Linked DNA regions of Homo sapiens. The protein of the gene in region 3 interacts with the protein of the main gene of each other region in a pairwise test. Each region holds a gene or a part of one and is shown on either strand. Other genes may lie near its edges. The genes, in order: UBXN11, AKAP8L and WDR25.

Region 1 (7,107 bases), on a different chromosome or scaffold from region 3:
CTGAACATGCCTCTCCCCTGCTTAGCAGACCTCATGGCTCCCACTGAACTGAATTCTACAGTCCTCGCTGTGGCCCCTGCGGGCTGGCCCCTGCATGCCTCTTCATCTTAGCTTGAACCACTCTCCCCTCCAGCCATGAGGCCCTTCCTCTGGGTCTTTGACCTCATGGAGCTGCTTCCCACCTCAGGGCCTTGGGCCGTGCTGTTGCTGTTCCCTCTGCTGAAATGTTTCCCCACCTCCCCCAGGTCAGTTCCACTGTCCTCAGTCATATCCCCCGGGCCTCCTAGGCAGGTTTTCCATCCCGAGCTTTCTCAGTGCCTCATCTCTCTTCCCTTGTGGGACTCTGAACTCCACGACGGAGGGAGCAGTTTCCTCCTGTATGTCACTGTGCACCCAGGACCTAGCACTGAATTGGTTAAGCAATTTGCTGCCTCTGGCTGTGACTTCTGCTCACTGGGGACTCAGTGACCCCAGTCACCTTTCTTTCCCCCGCTCACAGACCCATTCAAACAGCAAGGGAACTAGAGGGACACCAGGCACAGAGAAGGGTCCCAGGCACGCATGGGCCCTGCCAGAAGTTCTTCCTGGGATTCAGCCTCTCTCCCTCTCCACGCAGAATTGGTTTCCAAAGTCCCAATCTAATTTAAAACCTTGGCAGCAAACCTCCAATTGCAGCTGAGAGCCCTTCCCACTCCAAGCTGTTCATACCTGGGGTTGTCCCCGAGCAGTGGCCACAGGCGGTGAGGGCTGCACCAGAGCCTCGGGGCAGGGGCATGACTGCCCTTGCATGCGTCTCCGCCACACAGTTATCACTTCATTCATTTAACAGCCTCATCTGGAGGATCTGCTTGGGGCAGGCCTGGGGCAGAGCATGACCAAGACAGACATAGTCCCCCGCCTGCATGAGGCTGCCAGTCTGTGGGGAGGGGAACAAACGAGTACACAGGTACACAAGTACAGAGAGTGCTGTGACTTGATGAAATGGGTGACACCACAGAGGCAAGTTGGGGGACCACCTGCGGGGGTGACATTGGGCATGATGTCTGGTGAGTGAGGAGGGGAATGGGGTGAGAGGATCCAGGCCTTAGACAGGGAAGGTGCCACTTCCCGCCACATAACTTGGCTTGCGGTCGGTGGCTGTGTGGAGGAAGGAGAAGAACGGGAAAAGAGAAGAGGTCGTGGGGGCCTTATCACATTGGAGCCGCCCGTGGTTCTGGCTGGATCCTGTCCCGAAAAAATGGGAAGCCATTGGAAGGCTTCTGTTTGAGAGGTGGCATGACAAAAAGACCACCCTGCTTTGTGGGGTTGGGTGGTGTGGGTGAGGAGAGGACGGGGGAAGCAGGCGCCGCCCCTGGATTGTCCAGGAGAAAGATGACGGTGGCTTGAACTAGGGTGGTGGCAGCAGATGGAGCCCAGTGGATGGGTTCCAGGCTGCATTGGAGGGGGCACCACAGGCCTTGTGGGTCATCCTGGAGGAATGGGCGACAGAGGATTCTCAGGTGGAGGGGGTGCCATTTCTGGAGACAGGAAAACCTGGCACGGGGGAGGTTTGACAGGGGGACAAGAGCCACAGCCATTAGACATCCAAGTGTGGACGGTTGGAAATGTGAGTCTGGAGCTCGGGTGAAATCTGCATAAATACAAACTTGGGTTCTGTCGTATATATTTGGGAGAGCGTGTGGATGGAGCTGGGCCCCCATGAGTTGGTGTTGGATAGGAAGGGGAAACGGTGAAGGAAATTGGAAAGGAACAGCCCAGGAGATGGGAGGAAAACTAGCAGATGGTGAAAGATAGACAGAAATGTGCCCATGCGCTTGGCAGCGGGTAGGTTGGTGGTTGCAGCACCTTGAGCAGTTTCAGAGAGGTATGGCGATGGAGCCAGGTTAGAGTGGCTTGAGAAAAGAAGTCGGGGTGTGGACATGTAGACAGTCCAGAAGTTTCCTGTGGCAGAGGGGACATGCGGCCAAGCCCTAGGGAGGCTGGCACATGGTTCACATCCCTCAGCCCTGCCTCCTTCTCACACTTGGGCCAGGCCACGTGATTTCTGCAGCCAAGGAGGCTGACCTTACCGAGCCCTCGCATGGGCTGGGCGCTGACCTGAGTGATCTTACTGAGCCCTCCTCACAAGCTTATGTGGCAGGAACTGTCACTCCATTTTATTAGAGGAGTCGTCTGAGGCTCTAGGGACTGAGGTGGCTTTCCAAGGTCACAGCCAGGAAATGGCAAGATCCCCCTACTCATCCCTTTGTCTGGTCAGCTCTGGGGGCCCCATTGCCTGCAGACTGAGGCTGGGCTTTGGGCTGACACTGCCTTTCCCTGGGAAGGGGCTGAGCTGACGGTGCCCCGCATCTCCCCCTTCTTTCCCACAGCGGTTCCTCAGTGACTATGGCCTGCAGTGGGTGGGCGAGCCCATGGACCAGGAGGACTCAGAGAGCAAGACAGTCTCAGAGCATGGCGAGAGGGACTGGATGACAGCCAAGAAGTTCTGGAAGCCAGGTAGAGCAGGGCGTCTGCCCCAGGCCCTCTTCAAAAGGAATTCTCCAACAGTTTGCTGTTGGCCGGCAGCTCCCCAGAGGCCTATCTCATTCGTGCCCGGGTCCCTGACCCAAGACGCCCTGAGAGCCCACAACTTGCCCCTGAGACAATGTGGGAGCAGCCTTGGCCTCCATCACTGACCACTTAACCTGCTGGCCCACTTCTCCACGGTCCTACCTCTGCTCTCTCTTGCTCATCTGTCAGAGACCCAGAGATACAAGAGGTAGCAAGGCCTTATTTGCCTCAGGTCACATAGTCTACAAAACGCCACCAATCTGGAAGATGTTGCCGTTTTAAAAAAAGGCAATCCTTCTGTTCTAGAAGCTGCTGCCAAATTCCCAGGTTTGGCCTCCCTCTCCAGGTTTGCTTATGGCCCTTGGAATCCACCTGGTTCTGTGGGCCCCTACCATGTCTTTTTTTTTTTTTTTTTTTTTTTTTTTTGAGACGGAGTCTTGCTCTGTCACCCAGGCTGGAGTGCAGTGGCACGATTTGGCTCATTGCAACCTCTGCCTCCCAGGTTCAAGCAATTCTCCTGCCTCAGCCTCCTGAGTAGCTAGGATTACAAGTGTGTGCCAACACACCCAGCTAATTTTTGTATTTTTAGTAAAGACGGGGTTTTACCATGTTGGCCAGGCTGGTCTTGAACTCCTGACCTCGTGATCTGCCCACCTTGGCCTCCCAAAGTGCTGGGATTACAGGTGTGAGCCACCACGCCTGGCCTACCATGTCTTATTTTTAACTTCTAATATCTAGAGGGATTCCTCCCACAGTCCCCTCCTATAGACCCACAGATTTGGGTCCATAAAACTGGCCATTTCTGAAAACCAGGCCCATTCTCTTCAAAGAATGGAGATTGTCACCCAAAAGATGCTTCTCCAGGCTCTAGAGTCAGGCACACCTGGGCCCTCAACTCGACTCTACCTCCTATCCCAAGTGTGACTTGGGCAGATGACCTCTATTCACTTCATCAACAAAACAGGAGTGTTCTTCCCTGGGAGTTACAAGGAGCAAATGAGTTAAACGCAGAGCGCCTAGCTCTGGCCTTGCAGCCATTGTTGTTTCCAAAGTCTGAGGGCAGGGGTCCCACGGGAATAGGAGCACAGCTTCCAAGGGGCCCATTTGGAAGATGACGACACCTTCTTGGTTTCCTGCTAGGTAAAAACCCAGATTCCAAACATGAGAATCCTGCCTCCTGTTTAGGCCTGGGCTCTGGCTGGATCCCCCCAGATCTCAGGGTCTAACGCCCTCACTGCTTGTTCTCAAAACATCACTTCCCATTTTTGTGCCATTTGCAGCTTTCTTTTTTTTTTTGAGATGGAGTCTTGCTCTTGTTGCCCAGGCTAGAGTGCAATGGCACAATCTCGGCTCACTGCAACCTCTGCCTCCTGGGTTCAAGCGATTCTCCTGCCTCAGCCTCCTGAGTAGCTGGGATTACAGGCGCCCACCACCATGCCCGGCTGATTTTTGTATTTTTAGTAGAGACAGCGTTTCGCCATGTTGGTCAGGCTGGTCTCAAACTCCTAACCTCGTGATCTTCCCGCCTCGGCATCCCAAAGTGCTGGGATTACAGGTGTGAGCCACCGCGCCCAGCCATTTGCAGCTTTCAAAGCATTTTCTTTTTTCTTTTCTTTATTTTTCTTTTTATTTTTTGAGGCAGGGTCTCACTTTTGCCTGGGCTGAGTGCAGTGGCACAGTCATGGCTCACTGCAGCCTCAACCTCCTGGGCTGAAGTGATCCTCCCACCTCAGCTGTCTGAGTAGCTGGGACTGCAGGCACGTGCCACCACACCCAGCTGATTTTCTTTATTTTTTGTAGAGACGAGGTCTCGCTACGTTGCCAAGGCTGGTCTTGAACTCCTGGATGCCAGTGATCCTGCTGCCTCAGCCTCCCAAAGTGCTGGGATTACAGTTGTGAGCCACTGTGCCCTGCCAGCATCTTCATAGCCTTGACAGGGGCCAGGAGTTACTCCATTTCACAGATGGGTAAAGGGAGGCACTTAAGGAGTCTGTGGACTCATTATTGAGGGAAGAGGGGCAAGACTTAAGGCTGACAGCCCACTGTAAGGCAGTTGGTCACTGAGGCAGAAGATGAGATGATGCCCAGCTTGAGGGTGGGGATGGTGAGAAGGGATGGGCAGAGAGATTTAAGTAGAATCCGTGGCCTTGGTGTCTTTACATGAGGGAGAGGACCAGAGGAGTCAGGGATAACCCGAGGGAGCACAGCTGCGGGAAAGATGCTGAGTACACTTGGGACACAGCAAAGCTGGGGGCTGTGCAGTCCCTATGATGCTAGGAAGGGGAGCGTGTCCCTGCTGCCCAGGGCACTGTAGGCCCAGGCATGCCAACTCCAAAGCTCTAACTGAACCCAGGGTGGGTGTCGTGGGGAGAGTTCTCAAGGGACCCCTGGCATGAGTGAGAGGTGAGGCCCTATTGGGTGGCTGCAGGTGCTCTGAGAATGTCTATCCTGGATCTAGGCCAGAGGCCCACAAGTGCCGCACCCTGGGCCCTGCTGTGGCGGGCTGGGCTCAGGCTTCAGGTAGGCCTGCCATCTTGTTGCAGGGCAGCCTTCCTCCTGGCCAGGGGGGACCTCCTTGCTCCTTGCCAGGTGGCTGGTTTCTGGACCTGGCTCTGTGGATTCCTACTCTGCCCTGTTTGGTTGTTTGTGCTCTGAGTGCCTCAAGTCAAAGTAACTTGTGAAAAACCCTGCCCTCCATCTTGGAGGCCCTGGCCATATCTGTGGTCCCTCCGTGCGTTCTCTTCCTTCTTTTGTTCTTTGATTTTTTCAGCATGGGCGGGGGGCCTTGATTCGGCTCTTTCTGCCAGATGAATGACGTTTTTCGTCGCTAGCAGCTTCTGTTCCTGGGACATCTCTCCGGCGTCCCCGTTCCTCTCTCCCCAGGTGCCACCCTGCTCCGCCCAGGGGCCTCAGGCTCACAGCCTGGCCCCCGCTGGCCTGCCTGACACTCGGCTGATTGCTCTGCTCTCCCTCTGTTGGAGAGGCTCCCACAGGCGCTGGGGTGGAGGCCTGTGGAGGGTGAGCCAGGGCCGTCTGTGCCGAGCCAGTGGGGTGATCAAACTTCCTGGAGCCTGGGACTCCTAGGGAGGAGGGCCGGTGGGGCCATGAAGGGGCTTGGCCTCAGGCTGGATCGCTCACTCTCCCCCTCTCTCTGCCAGCGTCACAGAGCATGCTGTGCCAGGTGCTTCAGGGTCTGTGGAGACATGAAAGGGACAGTCCTGCTCTGGTCACACGCCACTGGGGCCAGGTGTTGGGCCTCGGGGCTGAGAGCTCTGGTCAGCTCTGAAGTTCTCCCTTCCCCCCCACCCTCTGCATCTCTGAGCTCCTCACTCCTCACTACTTCCCTGTTCCCCTGAGAATCCTCACCCTCTCATCCCCCTCTGAAATCCCCACTTCCCCTACCCAAGTCAGTCCCTGCCTCCCTCCATGGCTCCACCTCTCCCTGCCAGCACCCCACACGCCTCCCTCCTTCCTCTCAAGCCCCACACTCCTGAGTCTGGGTTGGAGGCCCCCTGACTCCGCAGCCTGCGTGACTTGCCCCTGGGCTTGCCCTTCAATCCCAGAGCCACCTGGCTTGACCCCTCCCCACCTGCACTTCTGCCTCCAGCCTTTGCTCCTGCTCTGTCCCCACAGAGCGCCTTGCCCGCTTCCCTCCCCTCTGAAGCTCAGGGCAAATCCAACCTCCGCCAGCAAACTCTGACTGCCCTGTGTGGGCTGTGCTGCTCTGTGGGGAGGGCTCTGCTTGAGGGAAGGGGCTAAAAGCTCTGGCTGAGGCAGGGTTCAGGTCGGGTCAGACCCCAGATCAGCAGATCGCTGACCCCCTCTGAGTTCATTTCCTCCTCAGTCGTGCTGACGGGCTCCTAGGGCCACTGAATGGATGTGGTAATAAACTGTGACAGCCACTGTCACCTAGCTGTTGTCATGCATGTCCCAGTGCTTGGCACATGGGCAAGGGTGTGTGTAGCTGCATGTGATTGGCTGTGATGCCCGTGTGCCCAGGCTTGGATGATCAGAGCACATTGGAACAGTCATCTGCACATGATGAGGTGGGGACAGGGTGGTGCGTAGCTCAATGGCAGGGGCCAGAGAGAGCTGCAGGTGGGACCCGGCAGGCCTGAGTTCAGATCCTGCCAGTCCACAGGCTGGTTGAGTGTTCTGGCGGGGACCAGACCTGCAGGGCCTCCTTTCCTGCACTGGCTCCTCTGAAGAGCAGAGTGACTGCAGTAAAGTCCCCAGAGCGGGGCCTGGCTTGCAGGTGTGTGGTAATAGTGGTTCCACTTCCTGTTGCAGCCGTCTTTGCCTGAGGGTCAAGGGCAGGCACATGGAGGGCGGCACCGCGTGAGCTGCCGGGGTGCCCTGGGCACTTGTGCAGTGAGGGGCTGCCACCTCTCCACTGAGCATGGTAGGGTCTGGCCCTCTTCTGGGCTCCACAGCCCCCACAGTGATACTTACACATGCCATTGTCGCCATTTGCCGCCCCGTCTTCTTCACTTGAGTCTGAGCCTGAGGATGGCAGGACCCTGGGCGTGGGCATCGCCATGATGGGCAGGGCCTAGC
Region 2 (7,107 bases), on a different chromosome or scaffold from region 3:
TTAGGTGTTTTAGTTGTGGGTTTTACATTTAGTCTGTGATCCATATTGAGTTAATTTTTCTACAAGGTGTGCAGTATAGGTTAAGGTTTCTTATTCTTCTATGGCATATAAATATATAATTGTTCCAGCACCATTTGTTTAAAAAACAAAAACAAAAACAAAACCATTTTTTCTTTCTTTTTTTTTTTTTTTGAGACAGAGTCTCACTCTGTCCCCCAGGCTGGAGTGCAGTGGCGCGATCTCAGCTCACTGCAAGCTCCGCCTCCTGGGTTCATGCCATTCTCCCGCTTCAGCCTCCCGAGCAGTTGCCCGCCACCACGCCTGGCTAATCTTTTTGTATTTTCAGTAGAGACGGGGTTTCACCGTATTTGCCAGGATGTTCTCGAGCTCCTGACCTCGTGATCCTCCCGCCTCGGCCTCCCAAAGTGTTGGGATTACAGGCGTGAGCCACCGCGCCCGGCCTCTTTCTTTCTTTCTTTCTTTCTTTTTTTTTTTTTTTTGAGATGGAGTTTCGCTCTTGTTGCCCAGGCTGGAGTGCAATGGCGCGATCTCAGCTCACCACAACCTCCACCTCCCAGATTCAAGCTATTCTTGTGCCTTGGCCTCCCAAATAGCTGGTATTACAGGCATGTGCCACCACGCCTGGCTAATTTTTGTATTATTAGTAGAGACGGTTTCACCACATTGGCCAGGCTGGTCTTGAATTCCCCATCTCAGGTGATCCACCCGCCTTGGCCTCCCAAAGTGCTAGGATTACAGGTGTGAGCCACTGTGCCAGGCCTATATTTTCTCTATTGAATTGCCTTCGTACCTTTACTGAAAATCAGTTGACCATATACTGTGGGTCTATTTCTGGACTCTTGGACTCTCATTCTGTTCCATTGGTCTGTACATCTAAATTTCGTTCAGCAGCACGGTCTTTTTGTATTTTTAGTAGAGACTGGTTTCACCATGTTGGCCAGGCTGGTCTCAAACTCCCGACCTCACATGATCCACCTGCCTCGGCCTCCCAAAGTGTTGGAATTACAGGCATTAGCCACTGCGCCTCGCCCAGCAATGCAGTCTTGATTACTGGTTAATAGTAATCTTGAAATATGAGTCCTCCAGGTTTGTTCTTTTTTCCAAAATTGTTAGTTTCTTTGCTTTTGCATATAAATTTTAGAATCAGTTTATGAAGTTTTTTAAAAAATTCATGCTGAGATTTTGAGTGAGAGAGCCTTGGATCTATAGATCTATCAAATCTGTAGAATCTATAGATTAGTTTGAGAAAATTGACATCTTAACAATATCAAGTCTTCTGATTCATGAGTGCAGTATGTCACTTCACTGATGTAGTGTTTTGTAGTTTTCAACACAGATCCTACACATACTTTGTTAGATTTACGCCAAGTTTTTCATGCTTTTAGTGCTATAGGAAATGGTACTTTTAAAAACTTTCCATTCATTGCTGATATATAGAAATTTGATTGCTATTTGATTTGTAGGTTTACCTTGTAATATTTGAAATTTGACTTACAGATTGACCTTGTAATAAACCTTGCTAAGCTCACTTATTCTAGTAGCTCTTTTGTAGATTTGTTTGAGATTTTTTTACATACACAATTGTGAAAGAATAGAGATGGATTTATTTTTCCTTCTGGCTTGAATTGCAAGAACAATATAACATTTAAATAACATTTTGAAAAACAGTCAACCAAGATCCTACCATATTAATGTTTAATTTTTATCAGCTTACTGATTTTGTGTAGTTTAATAATTTATAGGTGGATAGAATTGTGGGTACTGCTCTTATTTTATTTTATTTTTTTAAGATATGATCTCACTCTGTCCCCCAGGCTGGAGCACAGTGGCACAATTTCAGCTCACTGCAACCTCCACCTCCTGGGCACAGATAGCCCTCCCACCTCAGCCTCCTGCATAATTGGGACTACAGGCATGCCCTACCATGCCCAGCTATTTTTTGTATTTTTTCTAGAGATGGGGTTTTGCTATGTTGCCCAGGCTGGTCTCAAACTCCTGGGCTCAAGCGATCTGCCTGCCCCACTTCCCAAAAGGATTACAGGTGTGAGCCACTGCGCCTGGCTGGTCCTGCTTTATTTTATGTTAGAAGCATTTCCTTGTGCCACATAAGGCATAGTAAATTCTTTTTATATGCTTACATGATATGTCACCGAGTAGGTAGGTGTAATCTGATTAACTATTACGTTAAAGTTGAGTGTTAAATTGTTTTCTATTTTTGGTCCATAAATATCACATACTGTGACCATGTCCTTTTTTCTTTTAAAAATTATGTCCTTGGGGCCAGGTGCAGTGGCTCATGCCTATAATCTCAGCACTCTGAGAGGCTGAGATGGGAGGCTTGAGCCCCCAGGAGTTTGAGACCAGCCTGGGCAACATAGTAAAACCCTATCTCTACAAAAATAGAAAAAATTAGCTGGGCATGGTGGCACATGCCTGTTGTCCCAGCCACTCCGGAGGCTGAGGCAGAAGAGTCACTTGAACCCAAGAAGTCGAGGATGCAGTGAGCTGTGATCACACCATTACACTCCAGCCTGGAGGACAGAGCAAGACTCTATCTCAAAAATATATATGTACATATATCTTATTTTTACATATATATGTATATATTTAATAATAATAAATATATAAATTTTAAGGATCTCTCTCTCTCTCTCTCTCTCTCTCTCTCTCTCTCTCTCTCCTTAAAATTTCTTTTGTCAACCATGATCTCATCCCTTCTGGGGATGGAAATGAGTTGGGGTGTTCTTTCAGAAAGGGCAGGTCTTGGGGAGTCCCTAAACGCCAGTCTAGATGAAGGCTTCCTCCTGAAGGGACCCAGCTGGGATGTCCATCAAGGAGTCTGGGTTGCTCCAGGCATAGCAAGTGGCATGTAGTGAGTGTTTGCCTGGAGGGACTCCTGAGAGTTGCCCATCGTGGGAGGCCCTGCTTGTCCTTAAAACGTAAAGTGGTGTTCACGGAGTTGATGCTGCTTCCTTTCGTTGTGCCTCCTCACTCTGTTGTGGCAGATCCTCAGCAGGTGAAGCTTGCAGTGACCACATTGTAGCCTCCCAAGCAGAGCCCTGATGGATCTGCTTTTGCCTCCATATCCTATTTTCTTTTTCTTTTCTTTCTTTTTTTTTTTGAGACAGAGTCTCGCTCGGTCGCCTAGCCTGTAGTGCAGTGGTGCAATCTTGGCTCGCTGCAACCTCCACCTCCCAGGTTCAAGTGATTCTCCTGCCTCAGCCTCCCAAGCATCTGAGACCATAGACGCGCACCACCACACCTGGCTAATTTTTGTATTTTTAGTAGAGATGAGGTTTCACCATATTGGCCAGGCTGGTCTCGAACTCCTGACCTCGTAATCCACCCACCTTGGCCTCCCAAAGTTCTGGGATTACAGGCATGAGCCACCACGCCCAACTCCTATTTTCTTTAGAATAGCTAGTGCCCACTGTCCCTGGTACAAACAGTCACTTGGCCAGGTGTACAGTAGCTGCCTGGGCTACCTGTGTGTTGTTCTATTTTTTTTTTTTTGAAATGGAGTTTCACCGTGTCGCCCAGGCTGGAGTGCAGTGGCGCGATCTCACCTCACTGCAAACTCTGCCGCCTGGGTTCAAGCAACTGTGCCTCAGCCTCCTGAGTAGCTGGGACTACAGGTGTGCACCACCACGCCTGGCTAATTTTGTATTTTTGGTAGAGAAGGGGTTTCACCATGTTGGCCAGGCTGGTTTCAAACTCCTGACCTCAGGTGATCCGCCCGCCTCGACCTCCCGAAGTGCTGGGATTACAGGCGTGAGCCACTGCACCCAGCCTTGTGTGTTTTTCTTTATGTGGCTCTGCCAGCCTCTCTTGCCTCTTAGAATGGCTCCATTCTTTCCTCAGCTACCACTCCTGACTTACCCATGCTGCTCTCTGGCTGTTAGCATCTCTCTTACCAACAGGCAGATCTCCATGCCTGAGCAGTGCCTGGGACTGCAAGCCTCTGTTCCCTGTGCTCAGGGGATACATAAACAAATGGATGAGAAGCCTGTTTTGGTTTCTCCAGCCCAAGAGTTTTTGTTTTGTGAGCTCTCTTGTTAAACATAGTGGTCATCAGCAGTTCCTCAGCTTCTCTCTGATTTCTTCCCATTCTTTTTGTGCACTGGGTCGTGGAGGAACCCAAGTGCAGGACGACAGCCTGCCTGTTCTCTCTGGCTCATCTTTTCAGTTGACTTACACTCTTCCTGCTGTGGTCTGGCTTCTGCCACTTATTGCCCTGCTGTCTGTCTCACTGAGCTTCGGTCCCCTGCCCTGGGATGAGCATGTCCTCTGCGGGGCAGAGATGACATGGAATGGGAAACAACTGTTGGGTCTCACCAGAGACCCAGGGAAAGGGGTCACCTGCTCTGTGCCCTCCTTTGGGGAGGAACTGTGTGTTTGACTCAGAGTTCCCAGGGGACTTTACACTTTGTCACTTCTCAGTGGCTTTATGTTACTGAAGGAATGAGGTTTTATCATGTGTTGTGATTGAATCCAGAGCATATTAAGTTGATAATCCAGATTGTTCTCTCCACAGCTTTTCTCAAGCGAGGGGTTGCTTCTTGGGCTTCTCTCACTGATGTGTTCCAGCACAGCACAGTCAACAATTCAAGGGCTTGTTGGCCCTCCCTTTTAAGGCAGACTCTTGGGAGACTGGGGTTGGGTTTTCTGCTATAAACTGATTAGCACTTAGCTTGGGGTGTGGAGGTCACCTTCTAATTCTGGCTCTTAAAGGGAGGAGTATAGGAGCCAAGTTCCTTAGTTGAGAGTGTTGGGAACAGAAGGATCCTTAAATAACAGATGCTCAGAGCCACAGGCAGCCAGGCACCAGGGCAGCAAGTGGCCTGGGTCATTTGCGCAGTGCTCGCGAGCTCAAGGCTTCTCGGTTAGGGGAGGTGCAGCCTGCTCTGACCAGTCAGGTCCTGGGAATAATTGTCTGCGCCTGAATTATGGCCTTGTATTGTAAGCAAGTATAGATGTAACTGCCCTTTTACTTTTTGTAGGATATGGAACTTGGAACTCTGGGACAAATAGAGGCAAGTGTCATTCCTGTGATTGCTGTCCTGTCCCTTGGGGTTGTCCTGGCTGTGTTTCTCTGCCACTGCCCTGCTTGGCCAAGGTTGGGAGTGGGGAGGGGGCATGTTTCTGGGGTTACCTACTCCTTAACAGGAGGCCCTCATCAGAATGACCAGGGCCCATCTAGCTTCAGTGGCTAGGGTCTTCTCTCTCTGTGACAGAAGATACCCTTGTATCTGTGTTTGTCTCTGTCTCTGTCTGCCTCCCCTCTGCCTGCCCCCACCATCTGTCTGTCTCTGTCTCCCTCACTGCAGGCTACGAGGGCTATGGCTATGGCTATGGCTATGGCCAGGATAACACCACCAACTATGGGTATGGTATGGCCACTTCACACTCTTGGGAAATGCCTAGCTCTGACACAAATGCAAACACTAGTGCCTCGGGTAGCGCCAGTGCCGATTCCGTTTTATCCAGAATTAACCAGCGCTTAGATATGGTGCCGCATTTGGAGACAGACATGATGCAAGGAGGCGTGTACGGCTCAGGTGGAGAAAGGTGAGTGGACACCTGCCTAGGGGTTGAGACTCTGCAGGGGCGGCTCCTGCCTGCTGCCCACTGCGTTTTCCTCTCTGAGTGCCCCTCTGTGTCTGCTTCCTCCCCGCTGCTTGGTGCTGCTGTGGCTCCCAGCAGGGTCCGTTGCACTTCCCGTCTCTGACTTGTGTCTCCTCTCACCCACCCTCAACCCCTGCCGCACTGCCTGGTGGTCAGCCTTTCCCAGCTTGCGGTGAGAGGAACAAGCCCAGACTGGGCAGACTTCACTGTGCCCTCAAAAACAGAGTGTTCAGCCACCCCTCCCTCCAAGGACAGCCATTTGGAATTCTCTCGAGACTTTGCCTCCTGCGTGGTGTCAGGGCAGGACAGATGGAGTTTGGTGTGAAGGGTGGGACGAGCGTTTGGGGCTGATCACTGCGAGCTGGGCCACCCCCACGTAAGGGTCGGGGCAGGTGTGGGCATTTCCTGGTTACTCTCCTGTGCCTTACAAACATGTACCTGATGGAAGCACTCCTGTGAGGAACTGCTGCTGTCCTCATTTTGCAGGTGGGGATACAGAAGTGCAGGCAGGTCATACCCTGAAGGCACGCAGCAAGTACTTGGTGGGGCTGGGCCTCGCCTACCAGATCTGCCCTACTCCAAAGCATCATGCTGTGGGCATTTGTTATTAACTGAACTGGACTTGGCCCAGGAGTGCTTATGCCCAGTGCGAGGCTTTGGTGAGGAGCGTGGGTGTATCTCTAACATGGGATAGAGTGGAGCACCAGCTAACAGATGAGTGAGAGCCAAGAGTAAGGAGTTGCCTGGCTGAGCACTGATAGGGCCAAGGGAGGCCCCAGGGCTGTGGTGGCAGGGTGTGGAACAGGCACAAGGGGATTTGATGCCATGGGCTCTGTAACTCCTGGCCCAACAGCTGCAGCACTCAGAGCTGAGGGCTTGGCATGTGAGGCTTGGCCTTGCGTTGCTGCTATGCACCTTCTTACCACAGCCTGGAGCCTGGGATCGGGGTAAGCAGAGCAGCGGCAGCACCAACTGCTGCTCTTAGAGCTGCCGGTGCCTCTTGGTGGCCCAGGTTTAGGGAAGAGTGTGCAAGGGGAGCCCCTGTGCCTGTGAGGTGTGTGGGGTCCAGGCCTGTAGGGGTGTGGGCTGCGGGCTGCAGTCACGGTTAAAAGAGCTCTCTGCGGTGCCCTCTGTGTCCTGGGAGGAGGTCTGGCCTGCCTTCCCAGTTGCAATACAGGGTATATAGAGTTTGGTGTCTGGCTCTGGGCTCCAGGGTTGATGTAATACAGCTCTTTTTCTTGTCCCTGGGCAAGCTCTCAGTGTCTTCCCTGGGAAATACTCCCCCTTTTGTCTCAGTTGTTTTGGTAATGAGGGACTTTGCAGAGTTTGAAGGTTCCCCAGCCATGAGGGACAAGAACAGTGTTTCCCATGGGTATCATCAGCCTCACTGGCTGCGCATTCATTGTGCTGGACCTGCCTGCATCCTGCAGGGTGCTGGGGTGCTCAGCCTTGCCCTGTGAG
Region 3 (7,107 bases):
GACACCCCACTCACACCCACCCACACATACAATTGCATGCATTTGTTTAACTTCTGTTGATTGAGAGAATAATGCTTAAGGGCCACTATGAACCCATCAATGCCATCAAATGAATTTGATTTGAGTAATCCGACGGTGTGTGTGAGTGAGCTTGTCACTCTGTGAGCGGTGTGCTACCCACATGTGCTCACCTGACCCACAGGCTGGGGTTTCCCCTCCTGCACTCCTCAGACTCATCTGCCCCAGCCCCTGCACCCCATATTACATCCTGCTTTGGTTTCCATGCATACTACATGGAACCCTGTTCCTGTGTCAGCTCTGTCCTTGTTCCATCTGCAAGAACCTACTTTCCTCCTCATCAACCATACCTCCTCCATCCTAATTCTCTGTCCACCTAATCTGTGGCTCAGCTCAGGTTTCACTTCCTCCAGGAAGTCTTCCTTGATTTTCCAATCTAGATGTTCTTGCAATTCCTGTGTCTTTCTCCATCACTGCAATTTGGGATTGACTCTGCACTTCTGTCTTCTCCAGCAGACAGGAGCTTCTCCAGGGTAGGCACTGGGTCTTGTTCAGCTCTGTCTCGCCTATCAAGCATATCTTATGGGACATGCAGACAACAGAGTGTAACAGTCAGGCAGCAGGCTTTGGGGCCTAGCAGACCTGCGTGCATCCTGGCTCTGTCACTTGCTGGTTTGTGCCCCTGGCCAGTGTGTGTACAGCTGATTCTGATGGCGCCTGTCTCAAAGGGTGAGTGGGGCCTAAATAAGATGCTGTATAGAGGCTGTGGAAGAATGCCCAGCACACAGTGCTCAGTAGTAAGTGCTGCCATCATCAGCCCAGTCATCACCATCATCAAGTGGCATCAAACTCCCTGAGTCTGGCCACTCTGCAAGGGGTTAAGAGAATCAGTAAGACCAGGGAAGTGCTTTGTGAGAAGAAACTGCCACACACGGCACGGTGGGAAGGGCACAGAATCTGTAGTTGTACAGACATGGCTTCAAATCCCTGCTGGCTATGCACCACTGGGAGGCACTGAGCAAGCTGCTTTGCCCCTCTGAGCCTCAGTTTCCTCTCCTTTAAAATGGAAATAATCACTGCTGGCAGCTGCAGTGAGGATTAGACATGCTGTGTGCAAAGCCTATAGCACGTGGCAGGGGCCCTGTGACCATTAGTACTGTCCCCTCCCCTACTGAGCATGCAAGGAGCTGCAAGGCCGCCCACACTCAAGGTGGAAACAAACCACCTTCTCCATTTTCCCTCTGCGTCTCCTGGGGGCTGCTGGGCATGAGTGGCAGGGGTTGGACCAGCAAGTTATCATCTCCTTCTTGCCAGACCCTAGGAGAGGCAGGGCCCAGAGCCACCACCACTGCGGGGCTAGGCAGGCAAGATGCTGGCCTGAGGGTTCAAGGGGAGCCCCAGGGACTGGTGTGAAGTCTGGCCTCTCCCTGGGCTCCTGGCAGTGGAGCCCAGCAGAAATGAGACCGAGGAGCTCTGGGGAGGAGGTAGTGTGGTGCTGAAAGAAGCTGGATCCTGCTCATGGAGGGGGATAAAACATTTTTAAAAAGGAAAGAAAGAAAAGAAAGAGAACATAGAGGGAAAGGAAAGGAAAGAAAAGGGGAGGGGAGGGGAAAGGAGAAAGAGAGGAAGGAGCTCGGACTGGGAGGCAGATGGCAGAGGTGCGAATCCCAGCTCTGTCACTCCCTGGCAGTCCTCACTGTAAACCCCGGAGAGAGCCCACCTGGGGGCTGTGGCTGCGGTGGGTATTGACAGTGCCTGTTGCACAGGAGCGCTGAGTAAGGAAAGTTCCTTCCACTGACTTCTCTCTCCTTCTCGCCCTGCTTGTCAAGAGCCCTCTCAGGATTTACCCGGCACGAATCCATCCTACCCAAGTGCCTTTTCAGTGTGGGCATTAAAGCAGAACTCGTTTGAAGACTTTCCTTATGAGCTGGAATCATTTCTCACAGACTTTCAACGATAATGAATTGACAGGAATTCTAACCTGATTCCAACCAAAGGACACAATGATAAAGTTAAATCTATTTCAGCACAAATTGCATGTCAGAAGTAGATTAAAAAGCCACCTCTTTATCCAGCCCCATGGCTTGAGGCTGAGACAACCTTGGGGCTCTGTCCTCTGTGTTGGCTGGCAGAGGCCCATCCTCTGTGGGGAGTCGCAGTTCCAATGGGCAAGCAGTCTGGAAGCCCTCTCACCGAGCACGAGCCCACCCTGAGGCCCCTCTCCCTCTGCCACGCAAGCGTATACAGCTTGTGGCTGCGTGCCCACCAGAGAACCTTCCCCAGGGAGAGAGCTGCCAGCTCACCTCAGGGAGGTGACACAAGAAACGCACCTGTTTCAAGGTCTGTTAGGTGCAGCGCGAAGTCAAAGCCACCACTGAGGATGCGCCGGCCACAGGGAGCCCACCGGGCGGCCCGCACTGCCTCTGTGTGCAGGGAGTAGGTCTGCAGGCAGTGCCCGGAGTCCACGGCGTTCCATACCTGCAGGCAAACACAGACAGCACCAGGTGTCACAACAAGGGCCTGATCTCCAGGGCTCAGCTCGACCCCACTGTAGAAAGAAAAAGGTCTCGGTGGAATTAGATTCTCATTATTTTACCATCAAATCTATATCTAGATGTTAAACTTTTCATTGCAGAAATGTAAAGGCTTGGGATTGGTAAGTTGGGAGGATCATTTCCCCAAATTTTTTCTGGGGTTAAGAAAACTGCATTCTGGACGGGTATGGCAGCTCACATCTGTAGTCCCAGCACTTTGGGAGGCCAAGGTGGGCAGACTATTTGAGCTCAGGAGTTCAAGACCAGCCCAGGCAACATGGTGAAACCTTTTCTCTACATAAAATTAGTTGGGCATAGTGACACATGCCTCTAGTCCCAACTACTCAGGAGGCTGAGGCAGGAGAATTGTTTGAGCCCAGGAGGCAGAGGTTGCAGTGAATCACGATTGCACCACTGCCCTCCAACCTGGGTGACACAGCGAGACTGTCTCAAAATAAAAGAAAAAAGAAAACGCATTCCTGTGTCTGCCGGTCACCTACCCAGCCCTTCACACCTGTTTCATCCCTGCAGCCGGGTGGGAGTCCTGCACCCTCAGCATTCACAACCCTATCCCAGGCTCACCTGCGTCCCTGGCATCTTATCCCAGGCTCGCCTGCATCCCTGGCATCTTATCCCAGGCTCGCCTGCATCCCTGGCATCTTATCCCAGGCTCGCCTGCATCCCTGGCATCTGTCCTGCCATGGACACTGCCCAAGTCCAGGCTATTTTCATGGGTTCTGCTGTAAGACAGAGATCCAAAAAGGAATGTGCTACACTCGTATTTACAACCAGTCAAAGTACAAATATCTGCCGTAGGGGCAGCTGTCCTTTTGTTGGAGGAGAGAAGGTGCTTTCCCTCCTTCCCATGCTGGCCTTTCATGAGGGTATGAGGCTCATGAGAGAAAACCCTGTTACACTCAATGACTTCTGAAAAATGATCTAAGATATCAAGTATAAAACTGCACATTCCCAGAGCCAGGGCCACACCACGTGAGAGCCCCTGAGCTTAGCTTTCCACCAGCTCTCCCAGCAAATGCCGCCAAACACACCGTGCAGCCCAGGGGAACTGCCGGAGAGTTTGGAATATGTCAGGGTAGGCCCAGGGCCTGACACACAGAGGTACTCAGCAGTGCTAGTCCCCTACCTTCTTGTCACTGCAGGATGAGGGCAGTGCTCTCACCTACCACCCAGGTGGCTCAGAGGCTGAACCCGAGAAGCAGAGGAGCACTTGCAGCCAGCGTGTGGGAGTCAGAACGGAGTGCCTCCCACCTGATACGGCTGCTGGCAGGCCTCGGGCCTTGGCTGAGTGGCTTTGCCTCTCTGGGCCTCAGTCCTCTCCTCCCTGAAGTGGGAATAAGAAGAGCGCCACCCCGAGGGCAGTGGTGAAGGCTGAGGAGGTAATGGCTGCACAGCACATGGCATAATGGCTGGCACACAACTGGATGTGGATTCCAGACCTGTTCCATTAGGAAAACCAAGCTTCATTTTCTTTAATAAGAGAAAAACCCAAACAAAGTACACCCATGCACTTCTACCAACCTGATCCCAGGGATAACCTTCTCATTAAAGACAAGAAAATTCAACCTGCCAAGTCCCGAATGTTCTCAGAATGCAAAGGATCAGAGCTCTGAAACCTTGTTTCCTGGGATTATGTAAATGTCTACACTTAAGAAAACAAAAGGTCAAGAGTAGCCTTCAAAAAATGTGAAGAGAGCTCAGTTCCTTTCTTCCTCACTAAGGGTCAATAGCTGGGGTCTCAAACTGAAAAAATCAAGAAACAGCAGTATTTACATTTAGAAACACGACACAGCCAGAAGACACAGCCAGAAGACTTCAAAGTGGAATAAGAATTCACGGGAGGGAGATGGGGCACAGGGAACTGCTGTTTTCCAAAAATATGTATGAATATGAGTTTAATTTTATTTAAATAGTAAAATAAACGAGATCTACAGGGCTTACATGGTTAAATGGTAAAAAAGTTAATATTAAGTACATAAGTCAAGCTGCATATACGAAGTACAATGCCATTTAAGTTTTTACATGAAACACCACCTTGTACCCATTAGGATGGCTGCTATCAAAAAACAGAAAATAACAAGCATTGACAAGGATGTGGAAAAACTGGAACCCTTGTCCACTGCTGGTGGGCATGTCAAATGGTGCAGCCACTGTGAAAAACAGCATGATGGTTCCTCAAAAAATTAAATGTAGAATTATGACATGATCCAGCCATTCCACTTCTGGGTAAATGCCCAAAAAGCTGAAACCAGGGTCTCAAAAAGATACTGTACATCCATGTTCATAGCAGCATTATTAATAATAGCCAAAAGAGGGGAGTAATCCAAGTGTCTATGGATGGATGAATGAATTGTAAAAATGTGTTCTATCCATACAGTGGAATAGTATTCAGCCTTAGAATGGAAAGAAATCTTGGCACTTGCTACAACATGGATGAAACTTGAAGATATTATGCTAAGTAAAATAAGCCAGACACATAAGGACAAATACTATATAACTGCACTTATATGAGGTACCCAGAGTAGTCAAAATCATAGAGATAGATAGAAAGTAGAATGGTGGTGGCCAGGGCTGGGGGAGGGGGAATGGGGAGTTGTTTAATGGGGACAGAGTTTCAGTTTTCCAAGATAAAGAGTTCTGCAGACAGATGGGGTGCAGACTGCACAACACTGTGAATGTGCTTAATGCCACTGACCTGTATGCTTAATAGCGGTGAAGATGGTCAATTTTATGCTGTGTATTATTCTGCCACAGTTTTTAAAAATACACACACACACACAAAGAAAAAAAAAAGCAGATCTCATTTATACGTGAATTTGTAGCCAGGCTATAAAAACATGCATGAGGAGGGCCATCACTCCTAGGAAGGGAGGGAAAGGGGCAGGGCTAGAGGGAAAAGCTATGAACACTAAGCAGCAGCTCTTCCAAAGAGAGGGTGGAACATGTAGGGGAGAGTAGATAAGGCAGGGGAGATGAGATGGGGTAGGGGAGAGGAGATGGAGTAGGGGACTTGAGATGGGGTAGAGGAGAGCAGATCGGGTAGAGGAGATGAAATGAGGTAAAGGAGATGAGATGGGGTAGGGGAGAGTAGATGGGGTAGGAAAGAGTAGATGGCATAGGGGAGAGCAGATGGGGTAAAAGAAGATGAGATGAGATGAGATGAGATGAGATGAGATGAGATGAGATGAGATGAGATGAGATGAGATGAGATGGAGTAGGGGAGATGAGATGGGGTAGGGGAGGATGAGATGGGGAGGGGAGATGAGGTAGGGGAGATGAGATGGGGTGGGGGAGATGAAATGCACTGGGTTGATGCGATGGGGTGTGGGAGATGAGGAGAGGGAGAGATGGAAAATGCTCTCCGAAGAAAACATGCCCAAATGTTTCCTCTGAAACTCATTCATTTATTCATTCATTCAACAAAGATTTCCTGAGGACCTGCTATTAGCCAGGCATTGTGTAACAGGAAACAAATAAGACAAAAATCTCTGCCTTCAAAGAGTTTATATTCTAGTGAGGGAGACAGACACTGAACAAATAAAAATCCACAGTCCTTAAGGCAGTGGTGAAGACTGAAGTATTAAAAAGTAACCAGGAAAGGGCTCTATAAGGTCAAGGGAAGGGGCTGAAATGGTGGCCAGGGAGGACCTCTCTGAGGAGGTGACTTTGGAGGAAGTCCTGAAGGGGTGAGAAAGCCAGCTATGTAGAAATTGAGGGAAGAAGCTTCCAGGCAGTGACAGGAGTATGCCTGGCATGGTCAAGCAACAGCAAGAAGGGCCACTGCAGCTAGAGAAGTGAGCAAGGCTGGGGGTTGGCAGGGAGGTGGTAAGAAAGGGATGAAGTCGGAAAACCACAAGCCGTTGGGGCATCCCAGGGTTCTGCAGGTGGAACGGAGGGGAATGAGGGCTGGTTCCACTGCAGTAGGACCACTCCAGCTGCCATGCAGGGAGGAGAATGAAGGGCAAGAGAGATGAAGGAAGACAATCAGGAGGCTTCTGCAAGAATCCAGGGAGAGAGGAAATGGCTTGGAACAGTGGGAGGCAGTAGAGAAGTGGCCTGCCTTGGAGGGTAGAACCAACAGGACTTCCCTGGACTGGAGGTAGGATATGAGGGCAAGGGAAAAGCCCAGGACACATTCGCAGTTCCTGGCCCAAGCACTGAAAGGGGTGGAGTTGCAGGGATGGGTCAGCCTGCAGAAGGGGTAAGTTTGAGGGAAGGAGGACCTGGAGCTCAGTTTTGAATGACAGACAGCAGACAGTATAAAGACTCATTCCCGTACCAGTGTGATGTTCAAAAGAGAGGCCCAGGGTAGAGGCTGAGCTGTGGATGCCATTGTGGAAATTGTGCCGCAGCCTTGAGCTGGATGAGCTCTCCTAGGGAGCAAGTGCAGACAGGACAGAGAGGAGTCCCACATCTCAGCCCCAGGCCTCCAAGTTTCACAGGCTGGGAACCAGGGGAGGAGAGAGAGAAACCAGAAAGGAGTCTAAGAAGAGGCCAGTGAAGTGTGGGAAAAAAACAGAAGAGGAAAGTCCTGGAA

What was found.
Region 1: the proteins of WDR25 (region 3) and UBXN11 interact in binary tests that used the Homo sapiens proteins (3 or more experiments, as listed by UniProt).
Region 2: the proteins of WDR25 (region 3) and AKAP8L interact in binary tests that used the Homo sapiens proteins (3 or more experiments, as listed by UniProt).

What each region holds. Positions count from the first base shown.
Region 1 is NC_000001.11:26,289,594-26,296,700, reverse strand, and holds part of UBXN11 (UBX domain-containing protein 11), read left to right. Parts: intron 1-2,369; coding exon 2,370-2,496; intron 2,497-7,107. UniProt on the Homo sapiens protein: May be involved in the reorganization of actin cytoskeleton mediated by RND1, RND2 and RND3. Promotes RHOA activation mediated by GNA12 and GNA13.
Region 2 is NC_000019.10:15,401,957-15,409,063, reverse strand, and holds part of AKAP8L (A-kinase anchor protein 8-like), read left to right. Parts: intron 1-5,021; coding exon 5,022-5,054; intron 5,055-5,348; coding exon 5,349-5,589; intron 5,590-7,107. UniProt on the Homo sapiens protein: Could play a role in constitutive transport element (CTE)-mediated gene expression by association with DHX9. Increases CTE-dependent nuclear unspliced mRNA export.
Region 3 is NC_000014.9:100,463,410-100,470,516, reverse strand, and holds part of WDR25 (WD repeat-containing protein 25), read right to left. Parts: intron 2,497-7,107; coding exon 2,349-2,496; intron 1-2,348.